Linked DNA regions of Homo sapiens. The protein of the gene in region 1 purifies or fractionates together with the protein of each later gene. This does not show direct contact. Each region holds a gene or a part of one and is shown in the gene's direction. Other genes may lie near its edges.

Region 1 (4,473 bases):
GGTGGGTGGATCACCTGAGGTCAGGAGTTCAAGACCAGCCTGGCCAACATGGTGAAACCCCATCTCTACTAAAGATACAAAAAAATTAGCCGGGCATGGTAGCATGCACCTGTAATCCCAGCTACTTAGGAGGCTGAGGCAGGAGAATTGTTTGAGCCTGGGAAGCAGAGGTTGCAGAGAGCCAAGATTGCACCACTACCCTCCAGCCTGGGCAACAGAGTGGGACTCTGTCTCAAAAAAAAAAAAAAAAAAAAAAATTAAAAAAGCAAATTATAAGCAAGTCAACAAAATATATGTCTAATTGATGTTTATAAACTTACTCTGTCATGTTTTGTTAATCATCTCATGGGTAGTGTTCAGATTTTTACAAAGAGAATTGGTGAAATATTTTTATGAAATAATGTACAAAAATGAATTTAAAAAATCATACAAATATTTTTGTTTTACTTCTTGTTAAATGTAATCTTAAATTTAACTTTCAGTCTGAAGACCTGATTTTGTGTCAGTTGACGGTCCCAAACTTTTCAAACCAGACTGCCTATCTGTATAACGAAAGTGCTGTCTATGTGTGCTCCACAGGAACTGGGAAATTTTCTCTTCCCCAGGAGAAAATTGTCTTTAATGCACAAGGTACAGTAGCAGTTTTAGAAAGCATGATTGGTGAGCTCATTAGTCATTCTGAGTGCTTTTTTTCTCTTTCCCTGAATGTCACTTCAAGCATGCTGCTTTCAAATGTTTCTGAGACATTTCATACCACAACTACAGCAGCTGAAGCCATAACCCTACTAAGAAACCAAAAGGGTACTAGAATTTCCAAACTATTATATTTACAGACAAAGATAGTAACATTTGTTCCAGGAGAAGATGCCAAGAAGCAAAAAACTATTGCCAAGAGAAGTAATTGCTTATTCCTAGTTAGTAAAAGTGACATATTCTGAGTTGATGCTTTAACTTTTCCACACCCCTAGATAAGAAGAGCTTCAGGTGCTGGACTTATGCAGGGGGGCTGGTCAGGATTGAAGAAGAACCAAGCAGATACTTAGCTGAAGGGGTTGGGCAGAGGACAGAGTGCAGGTAGGCAACAGCATGGAACCCAGGTTTTCTAGTCCCAGCACAAGAACCTTGACAGAGGGTGGGTAGGATGTTACTAAGGTGCCAGGTAGGCTTAGACCTTTTTTTTTTTTTTTTTTTTCCAGTCCCCATTGACTGATGTGGTAAGTTAAAGTCAGAATTAAGAGAACTCCACAGGATTGAAAAAGCTCTTCTTCTGAGTTTTGCAGAAGGAATAATTTTCTTTTTTGGCTTACTAGACTGACTGCTGTCTGGCAAGGCTAGTTTTTATTGTCCTTAAAGCTGAAAGACACAGAGCCTGCTTCTTCAGATAGCAACCGGTTCTTAGCATTTGATTCTGGGATGTAAAGGATGAGTTCGAAGTAGGACTAATGTTGTAAAGGAAAAAATGTGCTTAATATATCATCAAGATGATTTTCTGCTTAGGGTGGTAGCTTTTACATAGCATTTTGTTGTTATTGTTAGATGTATTTGACTCTGTTTTCCTTTCTTTTAGGAGATAGTGTTTTAGGTGCTGGTGCCTGTGGTGGTGTTCCTATCATTTTTTCTAGAAACAGTGGACTGGTGTCTATTACTTCAAGGGAAAATGTGTCTATATTGGCAGAAGACTTGGAAGGGTCTTTAGCATCTTCAGTTGCTGGACCAAACAGTGAGGTAATGTGATTCGATAAGAATTTGAAGTTTTTATGTTATTTATTTTTTAGAGATAGTGTCTCACGCTGTCACCCAGGCTAGAGTGCAGTGGCACAGTCGTAGTTCATTGCAGCCCCAAACTCCTGGCCTCAAGCAATCCTCCTGCCTCAGACTTCCCAGTAGGTGCCTGGCTAATTTTTTGTTTTTTGGTTTGGTTTGGTTTTTGAGACAGAGTCTCACTCTGTTGCCCAGGCTAGAGTGCAGTGGCATAATCATAGCTCACTGCAGCCTCACCTCAACCTCCCGGGATCAAGCAGTCCTCCCCTCTTAACTTCCTAAATAGCTGGGACTACAGACATGCGCCATCTCACCTGGCTAATTTTTTATTTTTTGTAGAGACAGGATCTCCTTATGTTGCCTAGGCTGGTCTCAAACTCCTGGGCTCAAGAATCCTCCCGCCTCGGCCTCCCAAAGTGCTGGGATTACTGGCGTGGAGCCACCATGCCCAGCCTAATTTTTAGTTTTATCAGATTATTTTATACAAATGGTCTCAAAACTGAGACAGTTTTCAAAGACGTAATGATGCAGACATTAGTTCTTTTTATCTTCCTCATCCCTTCTGTCCTCTTTGCCTGGAGCAACTACATTTAAGCCTTTTAGTGATTTATTCTGGTATTTTTCTCCATATATCTAAGTAATGTACATATATTCCTGTCTCCTGATGCATCTGTTGATTTTCTACTACAGAAAATGAGGTTTTGGGTTACCTTATACTCCTTCCTCTGCCTTTATCATTCTAACATAAATTTTTTTCATTGTAATGACAATGTAAATATTGTTTATGGTTTGCTGATCCCAAATACTGATTACATGTCCTTTATTATAGAACTTTGTGTGACTCTTGGAGTGTATAATGACCTCGTTTTGTATTTTCTCACTTTCCTTTCATATGTGACTTAATCTTTTTACACACTCCAGGAGTTCTGTAGAGTGCCCCTCAATGTAGTTTTTCCCAAAGTCAAGTCTCCAGAAACCTTCCATCTGCACAGCTGTCATCCCAGAACTTCCCTTTTCTATTGTCCTCAAATCCTCAGGACCTGTCCTCTGCACCATGCATAGGTGGCCTCATCTCCTGTCAGCGGGGCCATTTCCCATTCCTTCTGCTTTCTATCTTCCTTTGTTGTAGTTAGTATCACAGATATTTCCAAGGAGCTTGTATTTCTGTTTCTTTTTATTCTGGGATGATTTTTTGAGAGGAATAGCCAGGTAAAAATTACCAATTTTATTCTGTTGTCTTGAAACCTGAAATATCCTATCCATAAGATTTTTATCATTCTTTTACAGAAGACTAAAAATAATTAATACTGTTTGGGGTAATTTCCATTTGAATAGTGTATGAAATATATAGACTACCTCTGTAATTCAAATTAAAGTGATTAAGTGTAGTTTTAAAGGAAAGAAACAATTTTTAACTTTTTTTTCTTTTCACAAAAGGGATTAATACCTTGCATTTTGTATTTTGTAATTATACAAAATTATACAAAGTACAAAATACCTTGTATTTTGTAATTAATACGATTACAAAAAAGGATTAATATCTATTTTGTAATTGTATGGTTATTATAATACTGTTATACATTCTGAAGCAATTTTATAGTATTCCATTTCTTTAAAATTTTTCTAAACCGTTGTTTAAATTTGTAATCAACCATTATGCTTAGGTAGTATACACTGTGATGAGTCGTGTAAGAGCAAACCTATAAAAAGATTCTGTTAATTATGATGAAATGTCCAAATTATTTTACTTACAACATAATCCCTGAATTACCTGTACCTTTTCTGTATGACTTTGGTTGATCATTTGATGCTATTTATAGTGTTTCAATAAGTATATGAATAATTGGTATGGACCAAGCTTGTCCAACCCACAACCCATGGGCTGCATGCGGCCCAGGATGGCTTTGAATGCAGCCCAACACAAATTCGTAAACTTGCTTGAAACATAAATTTTTTTTTTTTTAACTCATCAGCTATCATTAATGTTAGTGTATTTTATGTGTGGGCCAAGACGATTCTTCCAGTGTGGCCCAAGGAAGCCAAAAGATTGGACACCCCTGGTACAGACAATACGGCAAACAGCTCGTGTATATGCGGAGTTGCTATCATAGGATGGGTGCAGTTTTTAGTCCAATAATTAAGAATATTCAGATGCCTTTACCTCTAAACTATACTTTGTTATTTTGCAGAGTATGATTTTTGAGACCACTACAAAGAATGAAACTATAGCCCAGGAAGATAAAATCAAGTTGCTGAAAGCTGCCTTTCTGCAATACTGCAGGTATAACATGTTTTTTAAATTATGGATTATTTTATGTGTGAGGATATGTTTTACTGACATGTGCTACTTATTGACTGGTGGGAGCAAGTTGGAGGAATGATGCTATCAAGAGGAGAATGTTTTTTTGAGCTTTAGCACTTTAATAAACTGTTCTTCTGAACTTAGTAGCCATGGGAGGGTTCCAGCTAGCTAGGTTAGGGAAAAAACATGGGCTCTAACATACTCTCTCCACTTCATGAAAAACAATGTACCATTAAAAATGGTGATCATGAAGACATCTTGCAAGGGTCTTTTACGTATAACGTTAAGGTGCAAATAAGTTGCTTACAAAGTTTTTTTTTTTTTTTTTTTTTTTTTGAGACACTCCGTCGCCCAGGCTAGAGTGCAGTGGCGCGATCTTGGCTCACTGCAAACTCCGCCTCCCGGGTTCA
Region 2 (4,473 bases), on another chromosome or scaffold:
CACCATTTAATTTGAATAAAATACCTGTGTTCAACTTAAAAGTATTTTTCAAGCGCAGTTGACTTTTCACCTTTGCAGGGGTCTAGGTTTTGTTATTACTGAGTTACCGTCAAGACCCCTCACAGCTGCCTCATCGTGCTCTGTGGCTGGGAGTGTATACCACACTGGGTTCACATCACCATTCAGAAATTAACCACACAGTGGACTTAGGCGTTTAGGGCTTTAGTCTACAAACAGCATGTATTGCTTATTAATTTGTTCTCATAAACAATTTAAAAGATATTTGTTTTTCCTGCAGTTTTTGAATCTAACTTAAATATTAAGTTTTTTTTTCTTGGTAGTTCACCAAATCTCTGCATTTTGCTAATCGTTTTTTCTATAAAGTAATTTTTAAAGTTCTCAGCAGTAATATTAAAGCCACGTGAGCTATGTCCAGCATCCCATTTGTTATAAAACAAGAACCTTTGACTAATGGGAAATTCTCAGTCAGCAAAGACATTTTGAAATTTGTAACTATGATTTTTCTGTATTCTTCCAAGACTGGTAGTTTGAAATTTTAGGCTGCTTAGGAGTTTACAGATAGTATGACCTCTTTGTTCTGCAGTAAGAGTCAAGATGCTACCTTAAAACCTTTGCTGTCTTCCTTCCCCGCCTTGCTCCTGAGTTTTAAGTCGTGGCTGCACCAGAGATGTCTCTCCGTGGAGCTGGTCCTCACTGTGTTCTCATGTGCTTTTTCTGGGAATGCTCTGCACACGCTGTCCGGATGCAGATAACAGGAGGCGCAGGGTTCGTGGGCTCCCATCTAACTGACAAACTCATGATGGACGGCCACGAGGTGACCGTGGTGGACAATTTCTTCACGGGCAGGAAGAGAAACGTGGAGCACTGGATCGGACATGAGAACTTCGAGTTGATTAACCACGACGTGGTGGAGCCCCTCTACATCGAGGGTGAGTGAAAACTGCACATTGTTATTATTCAGAGCTCCGCAGGTGGCCTTGCCAGAGCTGCGGGATTCCTGAGGGTAAGCTGTTTGACTCAGCACATTGAAAGCTATGTTGGGTTTTATTTTTGAAATGTCTCAATATGTATGAGGTGCCGTCCTAGTCTGTGTGATAACGAGTGGTTATAACAGTGTGAATAGCCGTCTTCTCTCCTACGTGGCACCCCTGGTCCTGAACTTCATGGACCTGTTGAAGTAACTTTCCTGTAGTACACATCTGCTGTGGTCTGAATGTTGGTGTCACCCCAAATTCATATGTTGGCATCCCAAGCCCCACAGTGATGGTATTAGGAGGTGGGGCCTTTGGAGGTGATGAGTTCATGGAGACAGAGTCGTCACAAATGAGATTAGTGTTTTTATAAAAGAGGCCTGGGAAAACCCCGTTGGCCTTTCCACCGTGTGAGGACGTGGCGAGAAGATGCATATATGAACCAGGAAGCAGGTCCTCACCAGCACCCAATCTGCCAACCCCTTGATCTTGCTAATTTGATAGAAAACCATTGGTTCAATGTACATTTCTTTGGTTACTAAATATGGTTAGAATTTAACATGTTAATTCACCAGAGAAATACCAATGGTTTTGTTAGTCCATTTTAAAAATATTCTTTTAGTATGAGTTCTTTGTAATAGGAATGTTAACTGTTGGGCTTGTATTTAGCATTTTTCCCACAAAGGCAAAAAGTTTTTGCCTTTTCGTTTGAGTGACATTTTATAACATAGTTTCATCTGTTCATATTCTTCTTGCTGTTTCTTCTGTTCTCTTTCTGCTCTAACCGTTCCAAGATGAGATGAATATTTAATCTAATATTTAGAAAGCAGCCATGGTGTTAATTTTGTTGGTTGGTTTTTTGCTTCATTTTTAAACGTTTAATTATGTAATCTGTTTAGGATTCATTTTGGAGTGAAGCTGTAGTTTTTGTAAAGTATAACAGGCTATGTAGATTATAGCTCAGTGGGCTCACTTTCCTCTTGGATTTCCTCCTGGGATTGCTGTGGGGTTAACTGAGGTCATACATGTGACAGGGCCTGGCAAGCAGATTCTCACAGTTCCCTGCTAAGATGCCCTTTCCCATTGTTCAACCCAAGATGCTAGGTGGTGCTGTCACAGGACTTTGCTGATAGAATCAAGGTTATGAACCAGCTGGCTTTAAAATGAGGATGATCCTGGATTATCTGGGTGTGCCCCCACATAGTCACATGAACCGTCAAAGGCAGCAACAGAGAATGGAAGAGTCAGGTAGAGAGACTGGGTAGAAGAGATACCGCGGGGAGACCAGGCAGAAGGGAAGCTGGAGAGGTTTGCAGTGTGCAAGGGACCTGACCTACCCTGGCTGGCTTTGAAGGAGCCATGTGCGGGAGAGTGTTGGCAGCCTCTGGAAGCTGAGAATGGCTCCCTGCTGAGAGCCTGTAAGGAGACCTCAGTCCTGCAGCCTCAGGGAACTGAATTTTGCTGTCATCCTGAATCATCCTCTGAAGAAAGGAACACAGCCCTGCTGACACCTTGATTTCTGCCTGGGGGCAGGCAGAGCTGAGAACCAGCTGAGCCATACTGTGCCCGGTCCTGTAGACCTGTCAGATCGGATCGTGAATGGATATTTTTTGAGCCTCTAAATTTGATTAGGCAGCAATAGAAAACTACTGTGAGGACTTAGCACAGCACTGGGCCCTCATTTCACTAAGTGCTGCCCAAATTATACCTTTTTTTTTTTTTTTTTTTTTTTTTTTTTTGAGACGGAGTCTCTCTCTGTTGCCCAGGCTGGAGTGCAGTGGCACGATCTCAGCTCATTGCAAGCTCTGCCTCCCGGGTTCACGCCATTCTCCTGCCTCAGCCTCCTGAGTAGCTGGGACTACAGGCACTTGCCACCATGCTGGGCTGATTTTTTGTATTTTTTAGTAGAGACGGGGTTTCACCCTGTTAGCCAGGATGGTCTCCATCTCCTGCCCTCATGATCCGCCCACCTTGACCTCCCCCAAATGATACCTATTAATATTACTACTCTCTTCTCTTTTTTAGCACATGGCAAGAAACATTTATTTTATGACACTATTGTTTATATAATTTCAGTACCACTGAGAAGCCAGAACTTAGTAAAAATGGTGTTTTAATAAGTAAATTATCTTCTTTAACTGCGAGCTTTGATACCAAAGCTGCTCTAGGCCATTTCTGCCAATTCTGTGACTGTGTGTAGGACACACACACACACACACACACATACATGCAAACACACACACCCACACACCCACACATTGAATGAAGTCATACAATAAATGACTGGTGCTTTGTCCTTTGCTCAGAGTATTGCGTTCCCTCAGTTGGCATTTATGTTGGGAGAGCATAAGATGCTTCTCTGCCTCTGTGGTTTGAAGCCTGTTTTTCACTTTCTCCTTCAGCGGGTCCTCAACCTTGGCATCAGGTCTTCTGTGCCCTTGATAATTTCCCCCTTGCTGCCCTCCATCTCTTCACTCTTTCTGCCCTCACAATGCCCACTTCATCCAACAATGCCAGAATGCACCTTCCTTTGAAGCCCACATGGAACATTCTCCAAGACTGATCATATTCTCAGCCATAAAAGACACCTCAGCCAACCTGAAAGAATAGAGTGCTATAAAGTGTCCTCTCAGACCAGAGTGGAATTACACTAGAAATTAGTAACAGAAAGATATCTGGAAAATTACAAAAATATTTAGTGATGAAACAACAAACTTCTACATAAGATATGAGACAAAGGAAAAATCTCAAGAGAGATTAAACATACTTTGAACTAAATGAAAGAATTAGGTTTCTTGTTTATATATTTGATAAAGAATGAGATGGAAGAGAATCTGAAATATTTTTCTCTTTTCAAAAGAAACTTTTTTCCTGATGATGAAAATAATACATACATGTTAAAGAAAATATAGAAAGGTATTTTACAAAGCAAATAGAAAATTATTTTTAATCTTTCTATAAACTGTTGAGGAAGTTGGCTGGGCATGGTGGCTCACACCTATAATCCCAGCACTTTGGGAGGCCAAGGAGGGTGGATCATTTGAGCTCAGGAGTTTCAGTCCAGCCTGGGCAACGCGGTGAAACCCAGTCTCTACCAAAAATACAAAAAGTTAGCTGGGCATGCTTGTGCATGTCTGTGGTCGCAGCTATTCAGGAGGCTGAGGCATGAGAATCGCTAGAACCCAGAATGTGGAGGTTGCAGTGAGCCAAGATAGTGCCGTTGCACTCCAGCCTGGGTGACAGAATAAGACCTCATCTCAAAAAAAAAAACCAAAAAAAAAACACTGAAGCTAACATCCAGTTGTTTTCCTAAATGTGATTTTTTTTCCAATTAAAAACATGCTTAATAGGTAATATGGTTATATGGTTCAATTATTTTAAAAAATAAATGGAAAAGATGGCCGGGCACAGTGGATCATGTCTGTAATCCCAGTACTTTGGGAGGCTGAGGCAGGCAGATCGCTTGAGCCTAGGAGTTCCA
Region 3 (4,473 bases), on another chromosome or scaffold:
GAGAAGGAGAGAGATTGAGCTAGAATGTGAAAGTACCTGTCCTGGATCCTGATGGCTTTCCAGTTTCTAGTTCTCTTTTCTCCTGAGACCACATTGTATTTTCTTTCTTTTTTTTTTTTAATTTTTTTTTAATTTTTTTTTATTATACTTTAAGTTTTAGGGTACATGTGCACATTGTGCAGGTTAGTTACATATGTATACATGTGCCATGCTGGTGCGCTGCACCCACTAACTCGTCATCTAGCATTAGGTATATCTCCCAATGCTATCCCTCCCCCCTCCCCCCACCCCACCACAGTCCCCAGAGTGTGATATTCCCCTTCCTGTGTCCATGTGATCTCATTGTTCAATTCCCACCTATGAGTGAGAATATGCGGTGTTTGGTTTTTTGTTCTTGCGATAGTTTACTGAGAATGATGATTTCCAATTTCATCCATGTCCCTACAAAGGACATGAACTCTTCATTTTTTATGGCTGCATAGTATTCCATGGTATATATGTGCCACATTTTCTTAATCTAGTCTATCATTGTTGGACATTTGGGTTGGTTCCAAGTCTTTGCTATTGTGAATAATGCCGCAATAAACATACGTGTGCATGTGTCTTTATAGCAGCATAATTTATAGTCCTTTGGGTATATACCCAGTAATGGGATGGCTAGGTCAAATGGTATTTCTAGTTCTAGATCCCTGAGGAATCACCACACTGACTTCCACAATGGTTGAACTAGTTTACAGTCCCACCAACAGTGTAAAAGTGTTCCTATTTCTCCACATCCTCTCCAGCACCTGTTGTTTCCTGACTTTTTAATGATTGCCATTCTAACTGGTGTGAGATGGTATCTCATTGTGGTTTTGATTTGCATTTCTCTGATGGCCAGTGATGATGAGCATTTTTTCATGTGTTTTTTGGCTGCATAAATGTCTTCTTTTGAGAAGTGTCTGTTCATGTCCTTCACCCACTTTTTGATGGGGTTGTTTGTTTTTTTCTTGTAAATTTGTTTGAGTTCATCGTAGATTCTGGATATTAGCCCTTTGTCAGATGAGTAGGTTGCGAAAATTTTCTCCCATTTTGTAGGTTGCCTGTTCACTCTGATGGTAGTTTCTTTTGCTGTGCAGAAGCTCTTTAGTTTCATTAGATCCCATTTGACAATTTTGTCTTTTGTTGCCATCGCTTTTGGTGTTCTGGACATGAAGTCCTTGCCCATGCCTGTGTCCTGAATGGTAATGCCTAGGTTTTCTTCTAGGGTTTTTATGGTTTTAGGTCTAAGGTTTAAGGCTTTAATCCATCTTGAATTGATTTTTGTATAAGGTGTAAGGAAGGGATCCAGTTTCAGCTTTCTACATATGGCTAGCCAGTTATCCCAGCACCATTTATTAAATAGGGAATCCTTTCCCCATTGCTTGTTTTTCTCAGGTTTGTCAAAGGTCTGATCGTTGTAGATATGCGGCGTTATTTCTGAGGGCTCTGTTCTGTTCCATTGATCTATATCTCTGTTTTGGTACCAGTACCATGCTGTTTTGGTTACTGTAGCCTTGTAGTATAGTTTGAAGTCAGGTAGCATGATGCCTCCAGCTTTGTTCTTTTGGCTTAGGATTGCCTTGGCGATGCGGGCTCTTTTTTGGTTCCATATGAACTTTAAAGTAGTTTTTTCCAATTCTGTGAAGAAAGTCATTGGTAGCTTTATGGGGATGGCATTGAATCTGTAAATTACCTTGGGCAGTATGGCCATTTTCACGATACTGATTCTTCCTACCCATGAGCATGGAATGTTCTTCCGTTTGTTTGTATCCTCTTTTATTTCCTTGAGCAGTGGTTTGTAGTTCTCCTTGAAGAGGTCCTTCACATCCCTTGTAAGTTGGATTCCTAGGTATTTTATTCTCTTTGAAGCAATTGTGAATGGGAGTTCACTCATGATTTGACTCTCTGTTTGTCTGTTATTGGTGTATAAGAATGCTTGTGATTTTTGTACATTGATTTTGTATCCTGAGACTTTGCTGAAGTTGCTTATCAGCTTAAGGAGATTTTGGGCTGAGACAATGGGGTTTTCTAGATATACAGTCATGTCGTCTGCAAACAGAGACAATTTGACTTCCTCTTTTCCTAATTGAATACCCTTTATTTCCTTCTCCTGCCTAATTGCCCTGGCCAGAACTTCCAACACTATGTTGAATAGGAGTGGTGAGAGAGGGCATCCCTGTCTTGTGCCAGTTTTCAAAGGGAATGCTTCCAGTTTTTGCCCATTCAGTATGATATTGGCTATGGGTTTGTCATAGATAGATCTTATTATTTTGAAATACGTCCCATCAATACCTAATTTATTGAGAGTTTTTAGCATGAAGGGTTGTTGAATTTTGTCAAAGGCTTTTTCTGCATCTATTGAGATAATCCTGTGGTTTTTGTCTTTGGCTCTGTTTATATGCTGGATTACATTTATTGATTTGCGTATATTGAACCAGCCTTGCATCCCAGGGATGAAGCCCACTTGATCATGGTGGATAAGCTTTTTGATGTGCTGCTGGATTCGTTTTGCCAGTATTTTATTGAGGATTTTTGCATCAATGTTCATCAAGGATATTGGTCTAAAATTCTCTTTTTTGGTTGTGTCTCTGCCCGGCTTTGGTATCAGAATGATGCTGGCCTCATAAAATGAGTTAGGGAGGATTCCCTCTTTTTCTATTGATTGGAGTAGTTTCAGAAGGAATGGTACCAGTTCCTCCTTGTACCTCTGATAGAATTCGGCTGTGAATCCATCTGGTCCTGGACTCTTTTTGGTTGGTAAACTATTGATTATTGCCACAATTTCAGCTCCTGTTACTGGTCTATTCAGAGATTCAACTTCTTCCTGGTTTAGTCTTGGGAGAGTGTATGTGTTGAGGAATTTATCCATTTCTTCTAGATTTTCTAGTTTTTTTGCGTAGAGGTGTTTGTAGTATTCTCTGATGGTAGTTTGTATTTCTGTGGGATAGGTGGTGATATCCCCTTTATCATTTTTTATTGTGTCTATTTGATTCTTCTCTCTTTTTTTCTTTATTAGTGTTGCTAGCGGTCTATCAATTTTGTTGATCCTTTCAAAAAACCAGCTCCTGGATTCATTAATTTTTTGAAGGGTTTTTTGTGTCTCTATTTCCTTCAGTTCTGCTCTGATTTTAGTTATTTCTTGCCTTCTGCTAGCTTTTGAATGTGTTTGCTCTTGCTTTTCTAGTTCTTTTAATTGTGATGTTAGGGTGTCAATTTTGGATCTTTCCTGCTTTCTCCTGTGGGCATTTAGTGCTATAAATTTCCCTCTACACACTGCTTTGAATGCGTCCCAGAGATTCTGGTATGTTGTGTCTTTGTTCTCGTTGGTTTCAAAGAACATCTTTATTTCTGCCTTCGTTTCGTTATGTATCCAGTAGTCATTCAGGAGCAGGTTGTTCAGTTTCCATGTAGTTGAGCGGTTTTGAGTGAGATTCTTAATCCTGAGTTCTAGTTTGATTGCACTGTGGTCTGAGAGAGTTTGTTATAATCTCTGTTCTTTTACATTTGCTGAGGAGAGCTTTACTTCCAAGTATGTGGTCAATTTTGGAATAGTTGTGGTGTGGTGCTGAAAAAAATGTATATTCTGTTGATTTGGGGTGGAGAGTTCTGTAGGTGTCTATTAGGTCCACTTGGTGCAGAGCTGAGTTCAATTCCTGGGTATCCTTGTTGACTTTCTGTCTCGTTGATCTGTCTAATGTTGACAGTGGGGTGTTAAAGTCTCCCATTATTAATGTGTGGGAGTCTAAGTCTCTTTGTAGGTCACTCAGGACTTGCTTTATGAATCTGGGTGCTCCTGTATTGGGTGCATATATATTTAGGATAGTTAGCTCCTCTTGTTGAATTGATCCTTTACCATTATGTAATGGCCTTCTTTGTCTCTTTTGATCTTGTTGGTTTAAAGTCTGTTTTATCAGAAACTAGGACTGCAACCCCTGCCTTTTTTTATTTTCCATTTGCTTGGTAGATCTTCCTCCATCCTTTTATTTTGAGCCTATGTGTGTCTCTGCACGTGAGATGGGTTTCCTGAATACAGCACACTGTTGGGTCTTGACTTTATCCAATTTGCCAGTCTGTGTATTTTAATTGGAGCATTTAGTCCATTTACATTTAAAGTTAGTATTGTTATGTGTGAATTTGATCCTGTCATTATGATGTTAGCTGGTGATTTTGCTCGTTAGTTGATGCAGTTTCTTCCTAGTCTCGATGGTCTTTACATTTTGGCATGATTTTGCAGCGGCTGGTACCGGTTGTTCCTTTCCATGTTTAGCGCTTCCTTCAGGAGCTCTTTTAGGGCAGGCCTGGTGGTGACAAAATCTCTCAGCATTTGCTTGTCTGTAAAGTATTTTATTTCTCCTTCACTTATGAAGCTTAGTTTGGCTGGATATGAAATTCTGGGTTGAAAATTCTTTTCTTTAAGAATGTTGAATATTGGCCCCCACTCTCTTCTGGCTT
Region 4 (3,138 bases), on another chromosome or scaffold:
TTTACTTACTTATTTTGCAGAAGTACAGTCCATCCAGCGTCTCCTCCCCTGCTTTGTACTCGAGAAGATGTTGAAGTGGCAGAGTCTCCCCTCCGTGTTCTGGCTGAAACCCCAGATTCCTTTGAAAAGCATATTAGAAGCATTTTGCAACGTAGTGTTGCCAATCCAGCATTTTTGAAGTATGCAACCTTGGGCATAGCGGTTTTATGAATGGGTTCTCTTCTGTCTTCAGAATTACTGTGCATCCTTTCTGTCCTCATCTGTTTCATATACTTTTTACTGTGATAAATTTGGAAGAAACTGGATATATTTGATCAGCTAGTGAATGGGGAGCAGGAGGGAAGTGGCACCTGAGAATGATAAACAGGAAGTGTTTAAAAAGAAGTTAGGCTAGGCCGGGCGTGGTGGCTCACACCTGTAATCTCAGCACTTTGGGAGACCAAGACGGGTGAATCGCGAGGTCAGGAGATCGAGACCATCCTGGCTAACACAGCAAAACCCCATCTCTACTAAAAATACAAAAAAAAATTAGCTGGGTGTGGTGGCAGATGCCTGTAATCCCAGCTACTTGGGAGGCTGAGGCAGGAGAACCGCTTGAACCTGGGAGGCAGAGGTTGCAGTGAGCTGAGATCCCACCACTGCACTCCAGCCTGGGCGACAGTGAGACTCGTCTCAAGTTAGGCTGGGCACGGTGGCTTACAGCTGTAATCCCAGCACTTTGGGAGGCCCAGGCAGGCGGATCACCTAAGGTCAGGAGTTCAAAACCAGCCCGGCCAACATGGTGAAACCCTGTCTCTACTAAAAATGCAATAATTAGCCAGGCGTGGTGGTGGGCACCTGTAATCCCAGCTACTCGAGAGGCTGAGGCAGAAGAATTGCTCGAACCTGGGAGGTGGAGGTTGCAGTGAGCCGAGATAGCACCAATGCACTCCAGCCTGGGTGACAGAGCGAGACTGCATCTCAAATAAATAAATTAAAAATATAAAAAGTTTAAAAAGCACCTGTGACTTGAGTCTATTTATTTTCAGTTGTTTTACTCAGCTAAGGAAAATAAAGGTAGAAACTTTGTTTTTAAGAGCTTCTGAAAAGGACATAGCCCCTCCTCCTGAAGAATGCCTTCAGCTCCTCAGCAGAGCCACCCAGGTGTTCAGAGAGCAGTACATTCTCAAACAGGACTTGGCAAAGGAGGAGATTCAGCGGAGGTATGATGTCCTGTGTTCACAAACCATCGATCCCTGGCTGGTAGCTGATGCTGTATGGTAGCCTAGACCTGGCTTCTGAATAAACTCTATTTCTTTTTGTTTTTAAAGGGTCAAATTATTATGTGACCAAAAAAAGAAACAACTAGAAGATCTCAGTTATTGTCGAGAAGAGAGGTAAGTGTCAAAAATAAGAAGAATACAATAGGTCAGTAAGACTGGAACCATATTCTCACCCTAAGATGCTGAGCCACATTAGGTGGTTTCAGCATCAAGGGGTGGACCTCAAGAGTCTCTTGTGTCTTACATCATTAGGAAAAGTCTGCGGGAAATGGCTGAGCGTTTAGCTGACAAATATGAGGAAGCTAAAGAAAAACAAGAGGATATCATGAACAGGTCAGTGGGCTGTATAACATTTAGTTACCTAGTCAGGTACTAACAACGATATTTAAGAAAATGGGCATTGGCAGGTGCTTACATACCTACGGAACTGAACTGATCCCCCTGCCTCTCCTCTGAAGTATATGTTGGGGAAAACATGAGGCTCTCCCCTAACCCTTCCTATGGGGCCTACTTCAGAAACACCAGATTCATGAATTATGAGCTTGTGATTATGTTTCTCCTAATTAGTAGAGACCTTAAATTGAGATGTTTGCTTGCCTTTTCTAAAGGATGAAAAAACTACTTCACAGTTTTCACTCTGAGCTCCCAGTTCTCTCTGATAGTGAGCGAGACATGAAGAAAGAATTACAGCTGATACCTGATCAACTTCGACATTTGGGCAATGCCATCAAACAGGTAGGAATAGATCCAAACTAGCTAAATTTGGTAATTTTTCTTAAAGCACTTATTCTACAGAAAATTTTACAAAAATGTAAAAAGAACAGATTCAAATAGATACTGTGAAAATGTGTGGCAAACCACTGCCAAAATATCTATTATTTTAATACTTAAGGTTACTATGAAAAAGGATTATCAACAGCAAAAGATGGAGAAGGTGTTGAGTCTTCCAAAACCCACCATTATTCTCAGTGCCTACCAGCGAAAGTGCATTCAGTCCATCCTGAAAGAGGAGTAAGTAAATACTTCCAATCAGCTATTATCGTGAGATAGTTTTTCCTTTACAGTATGCCAGAATCAACCTGTCTTAATAGAAACCTGAATCTTGGTATTTGCATGTCAAGTAATTACTGGGATGAGAGCCACATGATACATAGGGACTTAAGAAATGACTATGGTGGGAGGATTGAAAGGGATGACCTTCTAGTAACATGATTTTGTTGTGTGGCCAAAGGTATTTTACAGTAATTATGTTCAAAAATATTTCCAGTACTTGCACCGTTTGCCACCTTAAATGAATAGTGAACACTATTGCTATCCACCTGAAACCTTCAGCTGTTAATTTTAGCAAAGCAGTTCTTAGATGTTTCAACATTACCAGTTTAAATTCTTAAGAATCCATATAAATGGTTTATTATAATTCCAAAAGTGAGTGACTTTACAATTTTACAGGGGTGAACATATAAGGGAAATGGTGAAGCAAATCAATGATATCCGCAATCATGTAAACTTCTGACACCACCAGGAGCTGACTCACACCTGAACTGAACACCATTGAAGGCTTAAACCCATATTGTAAAACAGGTAGAATTATCTAATTTATAAAAAGGTGTTTTGATGACCTTTGGTGTGGTTCATCTTTTTAAATATGTTGTTTTATAATAATTGAGTAAATGCTTTTATTTAAAATTTGGAATGTGCTTTATAACTCAAGCCTACAGTTGTGTTCAGCAAGGACTCAGGATTATTTCACACTGCACACTGCCAGAACCTCCCTGAACCCTATTGAGTTTTCTCCATATTTGAGCAAGTTAGTTATTCTTGTGAGCTGTGTTTTAAAGTAGCAGCACCAGAAACATGACTCTGAAGAGGGATAGAA
Region 5 (4,473 bases), on another chromosome or scaffold:
CAGCCTGGGCAATGTGGTGAAACACTGTCTCTACTAAAAATATAAAAATTAGCCAGGCGTGGTGGTGCATGCCTGTAATCCCAGCTACTCGGGAGGCTGAGGCAGGAGGATTGCTTGAGCCCAGGAGGTAGAGGTTGCAGTGAGCCGAGATTGTGCTACTGCACTCCAGCTTGGGCAGCAGAGTGAGACCCTGTCTTTAAAAAAAAAAAAAAAAAAAAAAATTCTAGAAGTAATTCATTATAGAAAGTTTAAAGAAGTGTTTGTGTCCTTTTTAATTTAAAAATGTTGTTAGCATCTGGGTGCGGTGGCTTATGCCTGTAATCCCAGCACTTTGGGAGGCCGAGGTGGGTGGATCACCTGAGGTCAGGAGTTTGAGACCAGCCTGGCCAACGTCGTGAAACCCCGTCTCTACTGAAAATACAAAAATTAGCTGGGCGTGGTGGTGAGTGCCTGTAATCCCAGCTACTGGGGAGGCTGAGGCAGAATTGCTTGAACTCAGGAGGCGGAGGTTGCAGTGAGCCAAGACTGCACCATTGCACTCCAACCTAGGCAACAAGAGCAAAACTCTGTCTCAAAAAATATATATATATAAAAAATATATAATATATATAATACATAAATATAATTTTATATATTATATACATCATGATGTATATAATATATAAATATATACAATATATAATATAAATATAATTTTATATATAATATATATTTTATATATATTATATAGTTTTTATATATATAATATATATAGTTAGCTTTTTTTTAAGATCCTTTGAAAATTAAGTTCACCTTCAAAGGAAAAATTATTTTCAGGTCTTTTGTAAAATAAGTGTGCCCCATTTTTCATTATTTTCTTAATCCATGGATGGCTAATGAGCACACTGAGTAGAATGTAAAACATTAGTTTTTGGAAAAAACATTTAATAGATTGAATCAGATTTGTACCAAGACCATTTAGATCTTGTAATTGGATTTCAGACTATAATAATTTTTCTGGTATCATACATTTTCATGAAAATTTTATGTTGATATTCATTTTATATATGTTTTTAGGAGTTTGAACAGTGTTTGTCAGAATTCACAAACCATGTTAGGTACAATGAGTCATTTACTCCCCAGCCCAGCCTAGATTGTCCCCATGTATGAATGCTGGTTTACATCCTGTGGTTAGTTCTTTGTTGGCTGTGTTTATGTAACCCTGTGCTATTTCATTTAAAATAAAAGTTCTGATTTGGTTGTCAGCTGCTGAGGAGCTTGATATGGAAAATGAATTTTTATTACCACCTGTTTTTGGCGAAGAATATGAGGAACAGCCCAGACCTCGATCTAAAAAAAAGGTACATTCACTTAATAGCCTATATAACAATATTTCTCTATAGGCAAACAAGGATACAGTGTTCTTTTAGTGTGCCTGAGAATATGGGAACATATTTTGTTTTCTAGGTTGGAAAATAATTTATTTTCTATTTATATAGAATATAGTAATAATATATTACTGCTATTTATTACTATTATTTATTACTATTTCTATTTGTATAGAAATAGTAATTATTACTATTTCTAGTAATAATAGTAGTAATAATTTATTTCTAGTAATAATTTATTACTGTTTCTAAGTAATAAAAATATCTCAGATTTAGTTGATACCTCAACTAAACTTGTATTGATACAAGGTCAAAATAGAAAACAGTTGCTAAAGTAGTAAGTTCAATTATTTGACAAAAATTTAGACTGTTTTCTAGGGAGCTGTTTTTTCCACGATTATTTCTGATGAGATGATCAGTGGGGTTGAAGTACACAGTTTATTATTTCTGGTCTCTTTTAGGCATACCAACACACATAGAAAGACATGCTGGACAGTTTGATCATTCAGGTAGACCAAATCTACATGCATTAACAAGTGTAATTGTTATAATATTCTGTCAACTTTCTGTGTTTCTGACTTCCAACATAAAGCAGGTTTTAAAAATACCTTAAGAAAGATAGCTTTCACAAATTGTCCCCAAAAGAAAGAAAAAAAACCGGAAAAGGGAGAGAATACTTGGAGTGGAATGAAGGTGGACTTCTGCTTGACACCAAACACAACAATTAACTCAAAATGAGCCATAGACCTAAATGTAAGAGCTAACAATATAAAACTCTTAGAAGAAAACATAGGCCTAAATCTTAATGGCCTTATGTTAGGCAGTTTCTTAGGTAAGATACCAAACGCACAGGGAAGAAAAGGAAAAATAAATAAATAAACTGGACTACATCAAAATTAAAAACTTTTGCATTGCAAACAGTGCCATCAGGAAAGTGAAAAGGGGGCCAGGCACAGTGGCACCTGTAATCCCAGCACTTACAGCACTCAGGAAGGCTGAGGCGGGAAGATTGGTGGAGCCCAAGAGTTTGAGACCAGCCTGGGCAACATAGTGAGACCTCTACAAAAACTAAAAAATAAAAACCAGCCAGGCATGGTGGCACGTGCCTGCAGTCCCAGCTACCCAGGAGGAGGATCGAGGCTGCAGTGAGCTATGATCGTGCCACTGCACTCCAGCTTGGGCAACAGAGCAAGACCTCTCCTCAAAACAGAACTCCAGCATGGATACTTACCTGGCAGGGGAGATACCGTGATTACAAAACTCTAGCATGGGTGACAGAGCAAGGCCCTGTCTTAAAAAAACAAAAATAAAACAATAAAATAAAAAAGTGAAAAGTACTTAAGTGTCACTCTCTATAAGGTGGAGTTGTTGAAAAGTTCTTCAGTTTCTGTTACAGTAATATTTAGATTATTAGTTTATTGTCTTATATTTATTTTCTCATCATTGGTGACTCTCACCACAGAATTTAATATGATTTTGTTGCACAAAGTGATTTATGTAGAAACATCACATTTCCTGGAATATTAATTGACTGTTGTCAGATTCAGGAATACCAGTCAGTTCAAAGCAAATACCTATATTTCATTTTTTCTTTTCTAATTTCATGACACATTAAACAAATAACTATATTTTTATGACAGATTAAACAGATAACTATATTTGTAATTACAGATGACCGTTGTACAATGCAGTGGTTGGGCTCTGATCCCCCCTGCACAGTCACAAATTTGTGTATAACTTTTGACTCCCTAAAAAGTTAAGTACTAGTAGCCTACTCTTCACTGAGCCCCCCTGCACAGTCAAAAATTCATGTATTACTTTTGACTCCCTAAAAAGCTAACTACTAGTAGCCTACTGTTGACTGGAAGCCTTGCTGATAACAGTTGATTAACACATATTTTATATGCTACATACTGTATTTTTATAATAAAGTTAGCTAGAGAAAATGTTATCAAGAGAATCATATGGGAGAGAAAATATATTTACGATTCATTAGGTGGAAATAGATCATCCTCATTGTCTTCAAGTTGAGTAGGCTGAGGAGGAAGAGGAGAGAGGTTGATCTTGCTGTCTCAGGTGGCACGATTGGAAGAGGTAGAAGGAGGTTGGAGAGGCAGGCACACAGAAAAACATACGTGTCCAAGTGGACCCCTGCAGTTCAAACCCATGTTGCTCAAGGGTCAATTGTAATTTGCCTTTGTTGAGAGATGGCTTGTATAAAGTAATGAAATAATGTAGGCTTTAAAAAAGATATTATTATGGTGTTTTTTACTAATAGGGAGCCAAGAGAAAGGCTGTATCAGGATACCAGTCTCATGATGATAGTTCTGACAATTCAGAATGCAGCTTTCCTTTCAAATATACGTATGGCGTAAATGCATGGAAACACTGGGTCAAAACTAGGCAACTTGATGAAGATCTTCTGGTATTAGATGAGTTAAAATCTTGTAAGTGTTTTAATTTTGTTTCTCCTAAGTCCTATTTAAAATCAAGATTTCTGTTATTGAGTACCTTTAAATTTAAAAAACATAAATGTAACTTAAAATACCTGTAAGAATGCATTTTATTTTACTTCAGAGCTCTTACAAAGAATAACGTCAGAAAGTTTCTTAACCTTAATAAGACGCTAAATAATAACAATTATTTTTTATTTTATGTATTTTTAGCTAAATCAGTAAAGTTAAAAGAGGATCTACTCTCTCACACCACAGCTGAGCTTAACTATGGGTTAGCTCATTTTGTCAATGAGATCCGACGGCCAAATGGAGAGAATTATGCACCTGACAGCATCTATTACCTTTGCCTTGGAATACAGGAGGTTAGTAATTTGATGGCTGCTTTCAAGTATAACATTAATAAGAAAAGTTGTGGTAGTTCTTGTTTCTGTAGCATTATGGAACCTTTATTGACTTACCAAGAAACACATCTACAAAGTTGTATGTTTGCTGCCATTTATATATAAATGATAATCAGGATGACATTCTTTCCTTACCCATTGCAGATAAGTGAATTCACATTATAAGGCATGATATGTAGCCACATCTGGCTATAGATCCATGCTGATCTACATGTAAACAGAAAAATGTCATAACTCTGTAAATAGGTC
Region 6 (4,473 bases), on another chromosome or scaffold:
GTAAGCATTTGTAGGCCAAACAAAATTCATTTATGATTGTTTTTAGTCTCTGAAGCAGGCTGACAGTGAGGGAAGTGACTTACCCAGAATCACCCAGGAAGTAGCGACAAAGATTAGGTCTTCTGACTTCTGGTCCACTTCCAGGAAAAATCTAAGTATACTGTGTGTCACATCAGGGCTAGCTGATTTATTCTTATATTTTATTCATGAGGAAGTGAATTTGGAGAGGAGAATGAACTTCACCATGCTTATACAGCAGTTTTTAAGGCAAAATAGAATCATGAAAAAGACACCACAGTTGTAGTCAAAGGTTGAGTCTGAAATCTATGAACGTAACGGCTGCATGTCTTGGGGCCAGTCATAGTACTTTTGTGGATCTCTGCCTTCCTTTTGGAAGTGTTGATAATGAGATGTACCTCACAGAGTTGTTGAGACTAAGATAAAAGATAAAATTTCTACGTCTCTAGAGTTGTAAATGGCAACCATAGTTTCTCATTAGATGTTAACCAAAAAAGTAGTTAACAGTCATGGCATGATTCAGTCATTCCCAATTGATTCACAGCAGGGCACAGTGGCTCATGCCTGTAATCCTAGCACTTTGGGAGGCTGAGGCGGGAGAATTGCTTAAGCCCAGGAGTTCAAAACCAGCCTGGGCAATATAGCAAGACTCGACTCTCTCTCTACAGAAAATATTTTTTTTAAATGAATTGGGTCTAGTAGTGTGCCCTTAAAGTCCCAGCTACTCGAGAGACTGATGTGGGAGGACTACTTGAGCTCAGGAGTTCGAGGCTGTAGATAGCTGTGATTGTACCACTGCACACCAGCCAGGGTGACAGGGTGAGACTCCATCTCTTTAAAAAAAAAAAAAAAAGGATTGATTCACAGTATCCAAATAGTAGAAACAACCCAAATGCCATCAACTGATGAATGGATAAACAAAATGTGGTCTATCCATACAATGGAATATTATTCAACGATAACAATGAAAGGAGTACTGATATCTGGTACAACATGAATTAGCCTTGAAAGCATGCTAAATGAAAGAAGCCAGACACAAAAGACCACATATTATATCATTTCATTTATATACAATGTCCAGAATAGGCAAATTTATAATTACGGAAAATAGATTAGTGGTTGCCTACAACTAGGGGGTGGAGTTGGGGTTTGGGGAAACGGGGAGTAAATGTTAATAGATATTGGTGTTTTTAGGGAGGTGATGAAAGTGCTCTGGAATTAGGTAATGGTGATGTCTGCATATCTTTATGAATATACTAAAACTCCTAAATTGTGTGCACTTTAAAATGGTGAATTTATGGTATATGAATTATAGCTCAATAAAAATAAAAAAATTAATTATAAAAAGGTTAGCTACCAGTAGACCCATGGCTAAATAAAAACCTGAAAATTTTAGGGAAAACTAGATACTCACATGGAAATTGGACACTTAGTTTATACCAAATACAAAAATAAACTCAAAATGGGTTAAAGACTTAAATATAGCCAGGCGCAGTGGCTCACGCCTGTAATCCCAGCACTTTGGGAGGCCAGGGAGGGTGGATCACTTGATGCCAGGAGTTTGAGACCAGTCTGGCCAACATGGTGAAACCCTGTCTCTACTAAAAATACAAAAGTTAGCCAGGCATGGTGGAGCACGCCTGTAATCCCAGCTACTCAGGAGGCTGAGGCACAAGAATCGCTTGCACCCAGGAGATGGAGGTTGCAGTGAGCCAAGATCATGCCACTGCACTCCAGCCTGGGCAACAGAGTGGGGACCCTGTCTCAAGAAAAAAAAAAAAAAAGACTTAAATATAAGAACTGAGATTGTAAAACTACTAAAAGAAAACATCGGAGAAAACTTCTGTATATTTATATGTAATACACAATAAAAATTATTGGTTTGGGAAATAGTTATTTGGATATTTCTGCAAAAACACAGGAAACAAAAGCAAAAATTGACATGCAAGATTGCAGCAAAGTAGTTTCTGAACAGCAAAGGAAACAATCAACAGAGTGAAGAGACAACCTACAGAATGGGAGAAAATATTTGCAAAGCATCCATCTAATAAGGGGCTAATATCCAAAATACATAAGGAACTCAAACAACTCAATAGCAAAAAAATCAAATAACCCAATTAAAAAATGGGCAAGGACCTGAATAGGCATTTCATAAAAGAAGACATACCAAAATGGCCAACAAGTATATAAAAAAAATGCCTGACATCACTAATCATCAGAGAAATGCAAATTCAAACCACAGATATCACCTTATACCTATTAGATGGGTATATCAAGAAGGCAAAAGATAGCAAGTGTTGATGAGGATGTGGGGAAAAGTAAACCTTGTACACTGTTGGTGGAAATGTAAATTGGTATAACCACTATGGAAAATAGTATAGAGTATCCTTTAAAAATTAAAAATAGAACTACCATATGATTCAGGAATCCCACTTCTAGGCATGTATTTGACAGAAATGAACTCAGTATCTTGAAGAGATATCTGCACTCCTGTGTTCATTGCAGCATTATTCACCATAGCCCACACGTGGAATCAACGTAAGTGTCCATTAATAGATGAGTAAAGAAAATATTATATATGTATACACACATGCACGCACACACACACACACACCCCATTCAAATAATGTCATTTTGTTCAACATTGTCTAATCATAAGAGAAAAAAATCAATTCCCAGCCAGTACCAGTATCTGTGTGGAGTTTGCATGTTCTTATATATGGTAAAATTGGTTTCATTTTACATCATTTCACTTAAAGCAGCAGTTTCCAAGAACTGAATGATGATGTTAAGTGAGGATTTATTGTGCACACACACATACACACACAGTGGAAGTTATTCAGCCTTAAAAAAGGACATCTTGCCATTTGCAGCAACGTAAATAAACCTGAAAGACATTATGCTATGTGAAACAAGTCAGACACAGAAAGACAAGTACTGCATGATCTCACTTATATGTAGAATCTAAGAAAGTCAAACGCATGGAAGCAAAGTATAGAATGGTGGTTGCCAGGGCTGAGGGCTAAGGGAAATGAGATATTGATCAAGGGGCACAAAGTTTCAGCTAGGCAGAATGAATAAGTTCTGGAGGTTTCATGTGCACCATGGTGACTATGGTAAATAACACTGTACTGTATACTTGAAATTTTGTGACAGTAAATATTAAGTGTTCTCACCACCAAAAAAATGGTAACTGTGAAGTGCTGATTATGTTAATTCACTGGATTGTGGTAATCATTCCACAGTGCATACATACATCAAAACGTCATGTCGTACACCTTAAGTATATACAATTTTTATTTGTCAGTTATACCTCAATAAACCTGGAATTAAAAAACTGAAAATTCTATAATCTCATCTCTGATCACTGCTCTAACCATAGGTAAGCACTGGTATCAAATTATACATCATTCTAGATCTTTGTTTTACTCATTCATGTATGTATAGTTTTGAGTGTATTATATATGAATATGTAGATACATATTTACATATTATATATATAAAGCTTTTATATAAATGACAAATGATCCAGTTTTCATTTAAAGATTGTGAAATATTTCAGACATATAGAAAGATATAAATATGGTATAATGAGCATATACCCACCACCAGCTTAATATTGAAAACACTGGCTGGGCACGGTAGCTCACACCTGTAATCCTAGCACTTTAGGAAGCCCAGGTGGGAGGACGGCTTGAGCCTAGGAGTTCAAGACCAGCCTGGGCAACATAACAAGATCCCATCTCTACATAAATTAAAAAATTAGTCAGGCATGGTGGCACATGCTTGTAGTCCCAGCTACTTGGGAGGCTGAGGTGGGAAGATTGCTTGAGCCTGGGAGGTCAAGCCTGCAGTGAACTGTGAATGCTCCGTTGCACTCCATCCAGTCTGGGTGACAGAGCAAGAAACTGTCTCAAAAAAAAAAAAAAGAAAAGAAAAGAAAGAAAACACTACCCCTGGTATACTCCCTTCCCCAAACACATCTCCCACTCTCAAACATAGAGATCGCTGCTATTCTGAATTTGACATTTTATTCTGTGTACTAAGGAACTTAACCTTGCCTGAAGAGAAGTCTGGCCTTTGCCCTTGGCTTCTGGAAGACACTCCCTAGCTCTTAGAATGTCACACCTCATAGGGGTGTCTTTGTTTGCCCAGGGACCTTGCATCACACTGAATATTCTAGAAATGTGATTTAGGATGAGGGCTGGCCACACCAGATAATGTTAACAATGTGATTTAGAGTGGAAGCAATACCAGATAGTCTAACAATGTGATTTAGAATAGGGGCTTTGGATCAAATGGTATCAGCTCAACTTCAGGAGGAGCTGGATGCTAAGATCCACCATGAGGGAAGTCACCATGTTACACGATGGAGGCCCAATAAAAACACTGGACACAAGGCTTGGGTGAGCTTCTTTAGTTGACAGTACTATGCATATTGTCACACATTATCAC
Region 7 (4,473 bases), on another chromosome or scaffold:
TCTTTTTTTTGGAGACGGAGTCTCGCTCTGTCACCCAGGCTGGGGTGCAGTGGCGCGATCTCAGCTCATTGCAACCTCCACCTCCCAAGTTGCACCAATTCTCCTGCCTCAGCCTCCCGAGTGGCTGGGACTACAGGCGCCCACCACCACGCCCGGCTAATTTTTTGTATTTTTAGTAGAGACAGAGTTTCACTGTGTTAGGCAGGATGGTCTCGATCTCCTGACCTCCTGATCCGCCTGCCTCAGCCTCCCAAAGTACTGGGATTACAGGCTTGAGCCACCGCGCCCGGCCGGATTCCAATTTTTTACCAGATAGGTGTTTTGCAAATATTTCTTCCACTCTCTAGGTTGTCTTTTCATTGTTTTAACTGTGCCTTTCACAAAGCAAAAGTTTTTAACTTTGATGAAATCCAGTTTATTCTTTTTTTTTTTTCTATCGTGGATTATGCTTTTGGTGTTTAATCTCAGAAGTAATCACCAAACCCAAAGTCAGCTAGATCTTCTCCTGTGTATTTTAAGAGTTTTAAAGTTTTGCATTTTACAGTTAGGTCTGTGATTCATTTTCAGGTAATTTGAGTTACTTGTGATCTTGAGTGTCTTTTGATTTACAGGTTTCCCATTTTCTTTTTGTTTTTTTTCCCCCTGTAATTGTGGTTTGAAGAAAGTCAGTTTATGTCCTATTGAGTTTCTCCTAGACTGGATTTTGCCCTTTGCATCCTGTGATGTTGCTGGAAATAGTCCTCCTTCTCTTCTTTAAAGGAGCAGCTCCATCTAGAAGCTTGGTCAGATTCTGGTTCAATTTTTATGGCAAGAAAACTTTCTGGGTAGTTGGTGCGTATGTCTGTGTGCATAGGCTGCAAACATCTGCTTGCTTCTGTGCTGTTCTGTGGACCACTGGATTCGGGTGTTGTTATGAAGTTCTTTGTCAGGTTTTCTCCTGATGGTTTTAGCGGATAGCAATGGCCATTGCCTTAATCTTTTTTTTTTTTTTTTTTTTTTGAGATGGAGTCTTGCTCTGTCGCCCAGGCTGGAGTGCAGTGTTGCGATCTTGGCTCACTGCAACCTCCGCCTCCCAGGTTCAAGCGATTCTGCTGCCTCAGCCTCCTGAGTAGCTGGGATTACAGGTGCGTGCCACCATGCCTGGCTAATTTTTGTATTTTTTTTGGAGAGATGGGGTTTCACTATGTTGGGCAGGCTGGTCTTGAACTCCTGACCTTGTGATCCACTTGCCTCGGCCTCCCAAAGTGCTGGGATTACAGGCGTGAGCCACCGCGCCCGGGCTTTTTTTTTTTTTTTTTTGAGAGGGCGTCTCCCTCTGTCACCAGGCTGGAGTGCAGTAGCACGATCTCGGCTCACTGCAACCTCCACCTCCCAGGTTCAAGTGATCCTCCTGCCTCAGCCTCCTTAGTAGCTGGAATTACAGGCACACACCACCACACCCAGCTAATTTTTGTATTTTTAGTACAGACAGGGTTTCACCATGTTGGCCAGGATGGATTTTTTTTTTTTTTTTGAGATGGAGTTTCACTCTTATTGCGCAGGCTGGAGTACAATGGCATGATCTCAGCTCACTGCAACCTCCGCCTCCTGGATTCAAGTGATCCTCCTGCCTCAGCCTCCAGGGTAGCTGGGACTACAGGCATGCGCTGCCATGCCTAGCTAATTTTTATATGTTTAGTAGAGATGGAGTTTCACCATGTTGGCGAAGCTGGTCTTGAACTCCTGACATCAGGTGATCTGCCTGCCTCAGCCTCCCAAAGTGCTGGGGTTACAGACGTGAGCCACCATGCCTGACCTGGTTTGGTATTTTGTTAAACAGAACCAAAGGCCAGACAGATTTTCTGTGCTTGGATTTAGTCTATATTGGAAGTACCTTGAGGCTGAAGGCACGTGGCTGTGAGCACGACACAGGAAGATACAGATTTGCTGAAAAGAATAGTGAACATAAAGCAGAAGCCAGAACTGCTGATGGCCGTCAGCCCGGTCCCTCCATTCCACCTGACGGTGCAGCAAATTCTGCCGACTTGCCAGAGAGGCAGCTCCAGGAGGGAGAAGCTGCTGTGCTTTCCTGAAGCAGCAAATGTGTTTTCTGCTGAGCAACCAAAACCAAGATCCCAGCCAAGACCCACGATTGCCCAGATCCACCCTCCCTGAAAGGAACTTGGGCAGTAATGCCCAGTCCTAGGCAGTTGCTGAAATCTTTGCCTTTTATTTTCTTTTTTGAGCTGGGATCTTGCTCTGTCGCCCAGACTGGAGTGGAGTGCAGTGGCACAGTCATAGCGCCATGTAGCCTTGGACTCCCAAGCTCAAGAGATCCTCCCGCCTCAGCCTTACAAGTAGCTGGGACTATAGGTACACGTCACCATGCCTGGCTAACATTTTCTATTTTTTGTAGAGATGGGGTATTTGTTGCCAAGGCTGGTCTAGAAGTCCTGGGCTTGGCCGGGCACAGTGACTCACGCCTGTAATCCCAGCACTTTGGGAGGCTGAGGCAGGCGGATCACGAGGTCAGGAGTTCAAGACCAGCCTGGCCAATATGGTGAAACCCTGTTTCTACTAAAAATAGAAAAATTAGCTGGGCGTGGTGGTGTGCGCCTGTAATCCCAGCTACTCTGGAGGCTGAGGCAGGAGAATCGCTTGACCCCAGGAGGCGGAGGTTGCAGTGACCCAAGATTGTGCCACTGTACTCCAGCCTGGGCGACAGAGACTCCGTCTCAAAAAAAAAAAAAAAAAAAGGAAAAGAAAGCCTGGGCGTAAGGATCCTTCTGCCTTGACCTCCCAAGTGCTGGAATTGCAGGCATGAGCCATTGCACCCGGCTTTTTTTTTTTTTTTTCTTTGAGACAGGCACTTGCACTGTTGCCTAGACTGGAGTGCAGTAGCGGGATTAGAGTTCACTGCAGCCTCAACCTCCCAAGCTCAAGCGATCCTCCCACCTTACCCTTCCTGAATGGATGGGGCCACAGGTGTGTACCATCACACGTAGTTAATTTTTAAACTTTTTCAGAGACGGGGTTTCTCCATGTTGCCCAGGCTGGTCTTGAACTCCCGGCTTCCAGTGATCCTCCTGCCTCAGCTTCCCAAAGTGCTGGGATTACAGGCATGAACCACTGCACCCAACCTTTTTTCATTCCCTTAACGAAACCTTTGGATGAACAAAAATTCTTAATTTCAGTGAAGTTCAGTTTATCGACTTCAATTTATACATTTTATAAAGTTTATGAATTTTTTTTTTTTTTTTTAGACGGAGTCTTGCTCTGTCGCCCAGGCTGGAGTGCAGTGGCTATACCCAGGTGTGATCATAACTCACTCCAGCCTCAAACTCCTGGGCTCAAGGATTCCTCCTGCCTCAGTCTCCAGAGTAGGTGGGACCACAGGCACATCCACCACACTGGCTAATTTTTTTTATTTGTAGTGGAGACTACGTCTTACTGTTTGCCCAGGCTGGTCTCCAACTCCTGGGTTCAAGTGATCCACCTCATTCTCCCAAAGCGCTGGGATTGTAGGAGTGAGCCACTGCACCCAGCCTGTCTGCTAATATTATGTTTAAGAGTTCTGAATCTTTTTTTAAATTTTTTAAAATTTTTAATTTTTTATTTTTTTTGAGACAGTCTTGCTCTGTCGCCCAGGCTGGAGTGCAATGGTGCAATCTTGGCTCAATGCAACCTCCGCCTTCTGGGTTCAAGCGATTCTCCTGCCTTAGCCTCCTGAGTAGCTGGGATTACAGGTACACGCCACCATGCCTGGCTAATTTTTTTGTATTTTTAGTAGAGATGGGATTTCACCATGTTGGTCAGGCTGGTCTCGACCTCCTGACCTCGTGATCCTCCTGCCTCCACCCCCCAAAGCGCCAGGATTCTAGGTGTGAGCCACCACACCTGTCCTGAATCTATATTTATGAGAGACATTGGCCTTAAGCTCTCTTTTTTTTTTTTTTTTTTTTTTTTTGAGATGGAGTCTCGCTCTGTCACCCAGGCTGGAGTGCAGTGGCGCAATCTCGGCTCACTGCAAGCTCCGCCTCCCGGGTTCACGCCATTCTCCTGCCTCAGCCTCCCAAGTGGCTGGGACTACAGGCGCCGGCCACCACGCCCGGCTAATTTTTTGTATTTTTAGTAGAGATGGGGTTTCACCGTGTTAGCCGGGATAGTCTCAATCTCCTGACCTCGTGATCCGCCTGCCTCGGCCTCCCAAAGTGCTGGGATTACAGGCGTGAGCCACCGCGCCTGGCCAAGTTCTCTTTCTTATAATGTGCTTTGTTGTCAAGATGATGCTGACCTCATAAAATATGCTGGGAGAGTGTTTCCTCTGTTTTATGGCCTGAAGAGTTAGTGTAGGAATAGAATCATTTCTACATTGGAAGAATTCACTAATTGATGTCTTCTGGACCTGGAATTTTAGTTTTTGGAAAGTTTTAAACTATGGATTAAAAATTTTAAATAGGCCGGGTGTGGTGCATCATGCCTGTAATCCCAGCA

Evidence for each region.
Region 2: the proteins of NUP133 (region 1) and UXS1 purify together in Homo sapiens (co-immunoprecipitation; one large-scale study listed by IntAct). This does not show direct contact.
Region 3: the proteins of NUP133 (region 1) and RIC3 purify together in Homo sapiens (co-immunoprecipitation; one large-scale study listed by IntAct). This does not show direct contact.
Region 4: the proteins of NUP133 (region 1) and NUP88 fractionate together in Homo sapiens (co-fractionation; one large-scale study listed by BioGRID). This does not show direct contact.
Region 5: the proteins of NUP133 (region 1) and ZMYM2 fractionate together in Homo sapiens (co-fractionation; one large-scale study listed by BioGRID). This does not show direct contact.
Region 6: the proteins of NUP133 (region 1) and SIGLECL1 purify together in Homo sapiens (co-immunoprecipitation; one large-scale study listed by IntAct). This does not show direct contact.
Region 7: the proteins of NUP133 (region 1) and FCGRT purify together in Homo sapiens (affinity purification with mass spectrometry; one large-scale study listed by BioGRID and IntAct). This does not show direct contact.

What each region holds. Positions count from the first base shown.
Region 1 is NC_000001.11:229,483,623-229,488,095, reverse strand, and holds part of NUP133 (nuclear pore complex protein Nup133), read left to right. Parts: intron 1-482; coding exon 483-630; intron 631-1,567; coding exon 1,568-1,725; intron 1,726-3,950; coding exon 3,951-4,042; intron 4,043-4,473. UniProt on the Homo sapiens protein: Involved in poly(A)+ RNA transport. Involved in nephrogenesis.
Region 2 is NC_000002.12:106,141,667-106,146,139, reverse strand, and holds part of UXS1 (UDP-glucuronic acid decarboxylase 1), read left to right. Parts: intron 1-664; exon of another isoform or gene 665-769; coding exon 770-950; intron 951-4,473. UniProt on the Homo sapiens protein: Catalyzes the NAD-dependent decarboxylation of UDP-glucuronic acid to UDP-xylose. Necessary for the biosynthesis of the core tetrasaccharide in glycosaminoglycan biosynthesis.
Region 3 is NC_000011.10:8,140,849-8,145,321, reverse strand, and holds part of RIC3 (protein RIC-3 isoform a precursor), read left to right. Parts: intron 1-4,473. UniProt on the Homo sapiens protein: Molecular chaperone which facilitates proper subunit assembly and surface trafficking of alpha-7 (CHRNA7) and alpha-8 (CHRNA8) nicotinic acetylcholine receptors.
Region 4 is NC_000017.11:5,385,843-5,388,980, reverse strand, and holds part of NUP88 (nuclear pore complex protein Nup88), read left to right. Parts: intron 1-20; coding exon 21-179; intron 180-1,028; coding exon of another isoform or gene 1,029-1,076; coding exon 1,077-1,202; intron 1,203-1,310; coding exon 1,311-1,376; intron 1,377-1,514; coding exon 1,515-1,595; intron 1,596-1,870; coding exon 1,871-1,997; intron 1,998-2,154; coding exon 2,155-2,273; intron 2,274-2,640; exon of another isoform or gene 2,641-2,711; coding exon 2,712-2,775; 3' UTR 2,776-3,138. UniProt on the Homo sapiens protein: Component of nuclear pore complex.
Region 5 is NC_000013.11:20,063,206-20,067,678, forward strand, and holds part of ZMYM2 (zinc finger MYM-type protein 2), read left to right. Parts: intron 1-1,245; coding exon 1,246-1,340; intron 1,341-3,645; coding exon 3,646-3,814; intron 3,815-4,033; coding exon 4,034-4,185; intron 4,186-4,473. UniProt on the Homo sapiens protein: Involved in the negative regulation of transcription.
Region 6 is NC_000019.10:51,253,477-51,257,949, forward strand, and holds part of SIGLECL1 (SIGLEC family-like protein 1), read left to right. Parts: intron 1-2,452; exon of another isoform or gene 2,453-2,556; intron 2,557-4,265; exon of another isoform or gene 4,266-4,424; intron 4,425-4,473.
Region 7 is NC_000019.10:49,518,850-49,523,322, forward strand, and holds part of FCGRT (IgG receptor FcRn large subunit p51 isoform 1 precursor), read left to right. Parts: intron 1-2,845; coding exon of another isoform or gene 2,846-2,964; intron 2,965-4,473. UniProt on the Homo sapiens protein: Cell surface receptor that transfers passive humoral immunity from the mother to the newborn. Binds to the Fc region of monomeric immunoglobulin gamma and mediates its selective uptake from milk.